Regions from separate parts of the Homo sapiens genome. Here region 1 is linked to region 2. A link means that fine-mapping ties the variant in region 2 to the expression of a gene that starts in the linked region. Tissue or cell type: monocytes. Region 2 holds a variant in brackets; the other region holds the start of a gene. All regions are shown on one strand. Distances are between the middles of the regions. Region 1 holds the start of ACMSD (aminocarboxymuconate semialdehyde decarboxylase). Region 2 overlaps MAP3K19 (mitogen-activated protein kinase kinase kinase 19).

What was found. PIP is the estimated chance that this variant, and not a neighbour inherited with it, causes the effect.
Region 1: ACMSD starts here. The variant in region 2 is the best candidate, but not a certain one, in a credible set for the expression of ACMSD in monocytes (Quach 2016, PIP 0.88).

What each region holds. Positions count from the first base shown.
Region 1 is chr2:134,836,040-134,840,438 of GRCh38, forward strand. It overlaps ACMSD (aminocarboxymuconate semialdehyde decarboxylase), which reads left to right and starts at 2,577. Exons shown (of 10, transcript NM_138326.3): 1 at 2,577-2,700. The coding sequence starts at 2,644.
Region 2 is chr2:134,995,692-135,000,090 of GRCh38, forward strand. MAP3K19 (mitogen-activated protein kinase kinase kinase 19) reads right to left here. Exons shown (of 13, transcript NM_025052.5): 7 at 4,246-4,324; 8 at 3,047-3,306. Among named protein-coding and RNA genes, the nearest start is that of MAP3K19, 50 kb to the right of the region's middle. The variant C/T (reference allele first, on the strand shown) is at 1,925.

The DNA.
Region 1 (4,399 bases), 160 kb before region 2:
CTCTCCACTGAGTTTTTAAATTAAAATTATTTTGATTTCATTTTTAAAGTCTCATTTTGCTCATTTTCAAACTTGGTAAACATTCTTGGAGGTTTAAATCTATTATTTATTATATCTGTGGACTCCTGCTCATAGTGACTTTTTTCCTCATGTGTGTAGAATTTTTTTATTGTGAGACAATACTTTGTTGGGGGTGCTTAATCTGTGGCAATACTGAGGAGACAGAATTGGGATGTTTTTCTTCAGGGAGGATTTACATTTCCTTTTTCTGGTCAAAAGTAGTACTAGGGTTTGGATGTAATTTCTCCCTACCAAAACATGTTAACATATAATTGCCAATGTAGCAGCATTGGGAGGTGGTGTTTTTAAGAGGTGATTAGGCTGTTAAGATGGGTTTTTCACAAGCCTGGTTTAGTTCTTGAGGTTGGATTAATTCTCATAGAAATAGATTAGTTCTTCCAAGAGTGGGTTGTTATAAAACTCATTAGCCTCCTTTGTCCTGTCCCTCTTTGCACACATCTGCATACCTTTCTGCTTTTCTACCATGTTGTACCTCAGCATGTGGCCCTCACCAGAAGCCAAACAGCTCCTGGTGCAATGTTCTTGGACTTTCCAGCCAGCAGAACTGTGAGCCAAATGAGTTTCTTTTCTTTATAAATTATCCAGACTCAGGTATTCTATTAAAGCAACACTAAATTGACTAAGACAGGGTGGGAGGAAGTAGGTGAGTGGTACTTTAACTAAAATCTTAGTGGGTGACCTTGAATAGTAATTCTCAAAGAAATTCTCAGAGAAAATTGTTATTTCTTCTCTTTTTTTCCCCTCATAGTGAAGACAGGTTTCATTACAGACTCCCTCTTTTTGGCCAATGGATTTTTTTCCTAGACTACTTTTTCCCTGAGGGTCTAGATCCTTCAAGACTTTTAGTGTAATGAGGGCATTTCAGTTTTGTACAAGCCCATATTATTATCTCCCATTCCCTTGTGGGATATTAACCCTGAAATCTCTAGGAGTCTGAAGCCACATTTTCTGGATTCTAATTCCAGTTCTCCCACACACTATTGTGTAACCATGAACAAGGTACTTCTCCGTGCTTCAGTTTCCTCTTCTATAAAATGAATATTGGTCCTAGTTCTTCCCCCACAGGAATGTTATGAGTAATAAGTGAACCGACTTTATTAAAATTCATGGACCAGTGCCTGGCCCATTGGGAGTGCTCTAAAAATGCTTGCACTTACTTACTCAGTATTAGCAAGTGCCTCCATGTTAGTTTAAGGCTTACTCATTCAGTTTTAGCTCACTGAACTTCTAAAAAAATGGATTTCAAGGATTTCCTTTATTTTCTTTCAAGCTGTCTGTTATAATTTATCCAGAATCTAGCTGAATTACAGAAGGAAGCTTTTTGACTACTCAATTTATGTGTTGTGGAGTCTGAGCTGAAGGCAGCAACCAAGGCAGGTTTAAGGGTTTGCCAGGGGACCTGGGGTCCCTTGAACATTTTAAGCTGTTCAGGAAGAGGAAAGGGTAAACACAGAACAATCAAGGGCTGTTTTGTTCCAGGCTCTCTTTAGAGGCATGACCATATAAGCCCCACTTTCTGCTATATTGGAAGCCCTCCCTGACTGCTCTGATAATGCTAAATGGAAATGGCTACTATCTTCTTTTCCCTACACTTTAGGATATGTATCATCTTTCTCTCAGTCAACCTTACATCGTCAGCATATAGCAGTTCTCCATAAATGTTTGTTAAATGCATGAATGAAGCTGGGTGCAGTGGCTCTCGCCTGTAATCCCAGCACTTTGGGAGGCAAAGGTGGGTGGATTGCTTGAGCCCAGGAATTCCATACCAGCCTGGGCAATATAGTGAGACCGCATCTCAAATTAAAAAACAAAAAAAAAAGGAAAAAAATGCATGAATGAATGAGTCCAAGACAAAGGCACTGGAGGAAAAAACATATATGAAGAGTGGACTCTTTCTGTGATTTAAAATGTGAAACCTCCCCATAACTTTTCAACACGTTAAATTTTCATGAACAAGACAACTGTTAAATATTATTTAAAGATATGGGAGTAACTAACTGAACAAAAAGCAAAATCATAAAAACTGGCTGCTTCTGAATAGTGCAAGGAAAAGTAAGAAAAGGTGAGTCAGGGATCTATCCTTTTTCTGTAAAAGCCCTCTGCATGGTTTTATTTTTAACTACAAACTATTTAATTATTAACTATGTACAACTAAGTTAAAATATTTAAAATGAAAAATCAGTCAATTTTTGACCTGCTGTAAGTCAAAGCATCCTGCTGTGCTTTTGACCTCATACAGTTGAGTACAGTTGTTTTTTTGTTTTTGTTTTTGTTTTTGTTTTTTTAAGTTTTGTGCCAAGAGTCCTGACTACCAAACTGTGTTGACCCAAAGCTTGATTAACAAATAAAGCTTGGTTAACCAAAGCTTGGTTAACAAATAAACAGAACTTTGAACTTTAATAAAGCAGTTCTAATGGACCTAGACTGGGTTGGGCAGGCCTACTGACTGCTGCCTGAAGGTTGCTGTAAAGGGACTAAGTAAATCAATTAACTCCACAGTTTTCACAAAGGTCTCTTGATATCAAAACTTCTTTCCTTGCATGCTTCTCTGATCCTGTGGAGATGAAAATTGACATCCATAGTCATATTCTACCAAAAGAATGGCCAGATCTAAAAAAGGTAATGGTAATTAATTTGCTGAATTATTTCTGAAACTTCTCCAGGGTTTCTCAATGCCTTTCTCTTCTTTGTGGAATTAGATGTCTAGTTTATCTGCTTTGGTGGGGGGCGAGGGGGTTAAATCATTTGGTAGTTCTGATTTTCTAGCTTTTAAAAATGACTTTTATATTTATTTTGAAATAACATTGGATTAAAGAAATAAGTGCTTTCTCAGAAACCCTTTTTTCCCTCAAATGAACCATTCTTTAAAATATCTGGACAATTTAAATAAGGCAGATTTACCTTTTCAAAAATCACATATTCAGCTGCTGGGAAGATACATGCCAACTACAGAATTTAAAGTTACAATTTTAAGTAGAAGACCATTAAAAATGGAATGTGATCGGTTTCAAGGACTTCTAAAATATATCTCCTTTCCAAAATGTTTAAAATAAGTTTTAGAAGCACCAAGAGATAGCTTTGTGAATTTTTTTAGTCTATTTTAGGACACTGCCTGAAACCTTTACTGTTTGATGTTCTTTATTCTATAAATCTTTGTCCTGAAGAACTAGGAAGTAGGTACATCAAAAAACCCGAGAATAAATGACATGAAGCTTTTGCACAGTGACATCTCCTAAGAGAGTATTCTTTGTGTTTCTCTAAAGATGGAAATTTCCTTTTGTCATTAAGAACTTTTGAATGAATATAAAAAGAGGAAGGTGAGGAACATGAAAGAAATGTAAAATTGGCTAGAGGTTTGTTCAGGCTTAATATCAGGTTTTACCCAATCTTCAGCATTCTGCCAGTACTTTCACACCACCGATAATGTTTCAACTTTTTTATCCCAAGTGAGGGAAAATGAATTAACCCAAACTTGAATTAAATGTGGTTCATTGTGCAAATAGATGAAACTATTTTCTTCTCATAGTTGTCTCATTGAAGAATGTTTATCTTAAGTATTTCTTTGTCCATTGGTATCTTAGGTAAGAGGGGTGGTAGAAACTGTGGATTGAAAAACAAAATCTTTGAAAGCCTATCCTATGCACAGCTAACGATAAAAGATAAACCTCTCAACCTGCTCTTCCTAAAAGGACTCTACATGTTTACACAGGAACATGCTGTTCTGAGTGCTGTTGTCCTCATCATAGTTTACTGAAGTGTAAACCACTTCACAATGTTAATGATTTCATGAAGGGAATGCACCAGTTACTTTGTGGGAGTGCATCTGCCTTGTTTAGAAGCTGCATGCAGTTTCTTACATCTTATGGCGCCCACCACTTTCTACCCCTCATTTATGAGTATTTGCCTGATGAATGATGCAATGAACACATTGACTAACTTGTGATACAGGTAATGGAAGCAATAGATTATACTCCCTAATCTGAGAGTTTTAGAAAAATCCAAATTTTAGTATTTGGTATTTTAAAATAGCCATAAACTATACCTAGCAAAAAAAAAAAAAAAAAAAAAAAAAACCACTAATTCCTCTGTTACAGCTTTTTTCTCTATTTGAGTATGAAAGAATATCCACATGAAATGCTTTGGAAACCACCACGGTGGTCTCTAGAGGACAACGCCCCCCTGTACTATCCCACTGAGAAAGCTAGCTAGCATGATCGACCCTCCAAGCAGGGCTCCAAGCTCCAGGGCATACACCTCCTTGTGCAGACAGGATTTTGAGGCTTAGAGAGAGCTACAGTCTGAATGTGTATGTCCCCCC
Region 2 (4,399 bases):
ATGTAATCAACACACTATGGAGCTCAGCTGCAAATAATATTTTACCTAGTCATAATAACAGAGACATTGAATATTGATTTTAAAAAAATAGACACAAAGATTGGGAAAATTGGGCATTGCTTGTGTGTGAGGCAAGTAATGTAAAAGTAATAAATCTTAATAGATGAAGCCCAAACTGAACAATTAATAAATACCATTCTAAACATGATATTTAGCAATATGAAAGTACACACTAGAAGAAAGTCTTGTACTAGCTGTACTTTTTTTTTTAAGAGATGAGGTCTGTCACCCAGGCTGGAGTGCAATGGACTAATCATCATCCACTGCAGCCTTGGCCTCCTGGAATCAAGCAATCCTCCCACCTCAGCCTCCCGAGTAGCTGAGCCTATAGGTGTGCACCACCACAGCCACCTAATTTTTAAAATTTATTTTTATATATGTACTTTTTTTAGAGGTGGAGTCTGCCTATGTTGCCCAGGCTGGTCTCAAACTCCTGGCCTCAAGCAGTGCTCCTGCCTCAGCCTCCCAAAGTGCTGGGGTTACAGGCGTGTGCCTGTGCACAGCTAGTACTTCTTATTTCTTTTTTTTTTTTTTTTTTTTTGAGACTTCAAGTGATCCGCCCATCTTGGCCTCCCAAAGTGCTGCCCTGGACCTGATTATTGTTATTATTAATTAAAAGTGCATTTGTAATGGCTATGTGCCAGGTATGATGCCAAATGCTTGGAGGTTGAATTATTCTTGCTTTTGTAATCCGGCGAAGATGAACACGTAAACAAATAGTGACAATTATGCTTGATTAGTGCTATGTTGTAGGTAAGGTCAGGATCCTATAGCGGAACAAAGAAAGGGCAACTCATCCAGTCTTGGGAAGTTCAGGAAGACTTCCCAGAGGAAGGGGTTTCTAAGACAAAACCTGAAGGATGGCATAATGCTCCAGCAGAAAGAACAGTAGGTGCAAATATTCACATGCATGTTTAGGGAATAGAGGGCATTTAGTGTGCTAAAGTTTATCATGCTGCGAAGGAAGAGTGGCAAGATATGAGGCTGAAAGAGGCTGTTGAAGCTGAACACGGTGGCTCATGCCTGTAATTCCAGCACTTTGGGAGGCCAAGATGGGAGGATCACTTTAGCCCAAGAGTTCAGTAACAGCCTGGGCAACATGGTGAAACCCCATCTGTACCAAAAAACAAACAAACAAACAAACAAAACTAGCCAGGCGTGGTGGCATGCACCTGTAGTCCCAGCTACCCAAGAGGCTGAGGTGGGAGGATCGCTTGAGCCCAGGAGGCAGAGGTTGCAGTGAGCCAAGATCACGCCACTGCACTCCAGCCTGGGCAACACAGCCGGAATGTGTCTCAAACAAACCAACAAACAAACAAACAAACAAAAAACAAAAAAACGCTATCAAGATTTGGGAACTAACTTTGTAAATTTCAAGGAACAAGAGTCTAGGTCCACTTCAAGTCCAGATTTCTTATGAACTATTTTACATATAGCCCATCAAAACACTGCTTCACCATTATGCCAAATGAAACAAGCCAGACACAGGACAAATATTGCATGATTCCATTTCTATAAAAGACCTAGAATAGTCAAATTCGTATTGAGACAGAAAATAGAATAGTGGTCACCAGAGGCTTTGGGAGAGTGGGAAATATAGAGTTATTGTTTAAGGGGCACAGAGTTTCAGTTTTGCAAGAAGAAAATGTTCTGGGGATGAATAGTTGTGATGGTTACACAACAATGTGAATGTACTTAAATGCCACTGAACTGTACACTTGAAAATGATTAAAATGGTCAATTTTATGTTACACACATTTTAGCATAATAAAACAAAAAAAAATTTAGGCCAGGCGCAGTGGCTCACACCTGTAATCCCAGCACTGTGGGAGGCCAAGGTGGGAGGATCACGAGGTCAAGAGAT[C/T]GACACCATCCTGGCCAACATGGTGAAACCCCATCTCTACTAAAAATACAAAAATTAGCTGGGCGTGGTGGCATGCGCCTGTAGTCCCAGCTACTTGGGAGGCTGAGGCATGAGAATTGCTTGAACCCAGGAGGCAGAGGTTGCGGTGAGCTGAGATTGGGCCACTGTGCTCCAGCCTGGTGACAGAGCGAGACTCCGTCTCAAAAAAAAAAAAACTTTAAGCACTGCTTCATTTAAATTTCACTTAAAATGTACCCTTCTCTTAAAATCCCATAATAATTATTCTTTTTTTTCTTTTTTGGTAGGATGTGTCACAGCTCCACTGGCATGCAGTCTCCCTCATTGTGATAAATCAATGAATGTAACTTGTTGGATTATAAGGTTGTTCCTGGTGGTTTTGGCTGGTTGGTTGAGGACAGTGGTAAACAAGTAGCAAAGACAATATTGCCGCAGGGGGAAATGCTGGCATCAGTGCTGCTATCTAGCAAATGAGTCTTGGGCTCAATGTAGTTGGAAGTTGGCTCTTAGACTTGCACATTAACTTGGGGATCCAGGAATAAGGCTAACGTAGACTCAAGTCCATAATGACCCTGGGACCTGGTAGAAGTAAATTCAATACTTCTGGCCAAAAGCATCCACAGCGTGGGCCCCCAAGATTCCCACAGATAAACATCAACCAAATATGAGCTCACAATGAAGATTTTCAAACACTCAAGAAAAAAGTCAACCATAGTGCAAATCAGTAGGATATTGATACTGAAATTATCAAGTATAGTTTACAAAATAATGTCTGAAATGTTTAAAGAAATAAGCAATGAAATAATCTAAACAATAAGATATTCTCAAAATATTTGCCTTCTATTCCTTGAACAAATATATAAACATTTGCACATATAGTGCTCTTTCTGCTGGAACATTATGCCATCCTTCATTTTACTTGTTTACTAGTTTATTGTCTGTCTCGCACCCCCATGACCCCCAGGAATGTAAATTACACAAGGGCTGGGGTTATTTTCTGGTATGTTCACTGCTTTATCTCTAGCATTTAGAACAGTGCCTGGCACAATACATAAATATTTGTTGACCAAAAGGACTCACTGTGGAATTCAATGTTCAACTTACCTTCAGATTTTCTTTGCTGCTCCTTCAGAAAATGAGGAGCATCTTCTCTGGTTACAGACTTGGAAATGTTCAGTTCTAAACAAGATCTTGGTAGCAAAAAGCCCAAGTTCACATTGCAGAGCTCCCTGGAACTTTCCTCTTTTTGCAAAACTAAGGGCCGCATGGTCAGCTTCTTTTTCCTGAGCTCCACCGTTTCTATTTCATTTGGATGAGAAACTGCATGTGCTTGTGCCCATTCTTGAAGCGATGAGTTTATCAGACTAAAGGGGGAGGGAAATGTTTGATTTAAAACTCAGTTGCCACATCTTCTGGATCTCCAGTCCTCAGTTCAGCCTGACATCACTAGAAAGTTTGAAGAACTACTTCCAAATGGTGCTGCTGAAAGGAAAGGCTGAATCCTGAGAGGGTAAGACATCTCCACCTGCTGACTCCTCCTGGCCTCCTTAGCCCTCTGTACCATCGCTTGGATGGATTAGGTTTCAGCTCACTCTCGTTTTCCCAATCACCATTTCCTTGCACAGAGAAATCAGAGACCAAGGGCAGGCCTGGGGGATGTACCCTTTTATCTCCACAGGTACTGACTAGCCCAGTGTTTCTCAAACTATTTTTGATGAAGAACCAGCATTTAAATTTCCAGTCATTGTGAACTGATACTTTTGTAAAATATAAATGAATTGCCATAAAAATGGAAGAAAAATAAAAGACATGCAAAAAATAAGCCTCAATTTGTTTCACTACCCGATCAATGAACGTAAGTTATTTGCCAAATTGCTTTGCAACTTTTTTAATGGTCACCCTCGCAGCCTGTCCTGACCTCATCATGGACTAGTAACAGGACCACAGAACCACATTCTAAGTAGCTCTGCCCTGCAGTAGGGTCAGCAAACTACAGCCCGGGGACCAAATCCAGCCTTCAGCCTTTTTCTGTAGCTTTAATTGGATCACAGCCACACTCATTTGTTTACATATTGTCTATGGCTGCATTCAAATGACAGTTGCAGAGTTGAATCATCACAACAGAGACCATATGGCCCACACAGCCAAAGTGTTTATGATCTGGCCTCTGCCACATACTATTTATTGTGACCTCTACTTTTAAGCATTATTATGGATTCAATTACTAATAATGTAGGTTGCCATATGACTATCATTGCTTCATACTTCATTTCAAATCTGATACTTCAAAGAATATTCCTTACTTCTTTTCTTTTAAGTCTTCTTGGCTCATTTCTTGGGGAGGACTGACATCTCTTGGAAAAGTTACAGTGATCTCAACACCTGTAGAAACATACCACAGTAGTAGAAGGAAGAAAGTAATGAATTCCAGCGGAAAGCGGGAGACGTACTTTATTT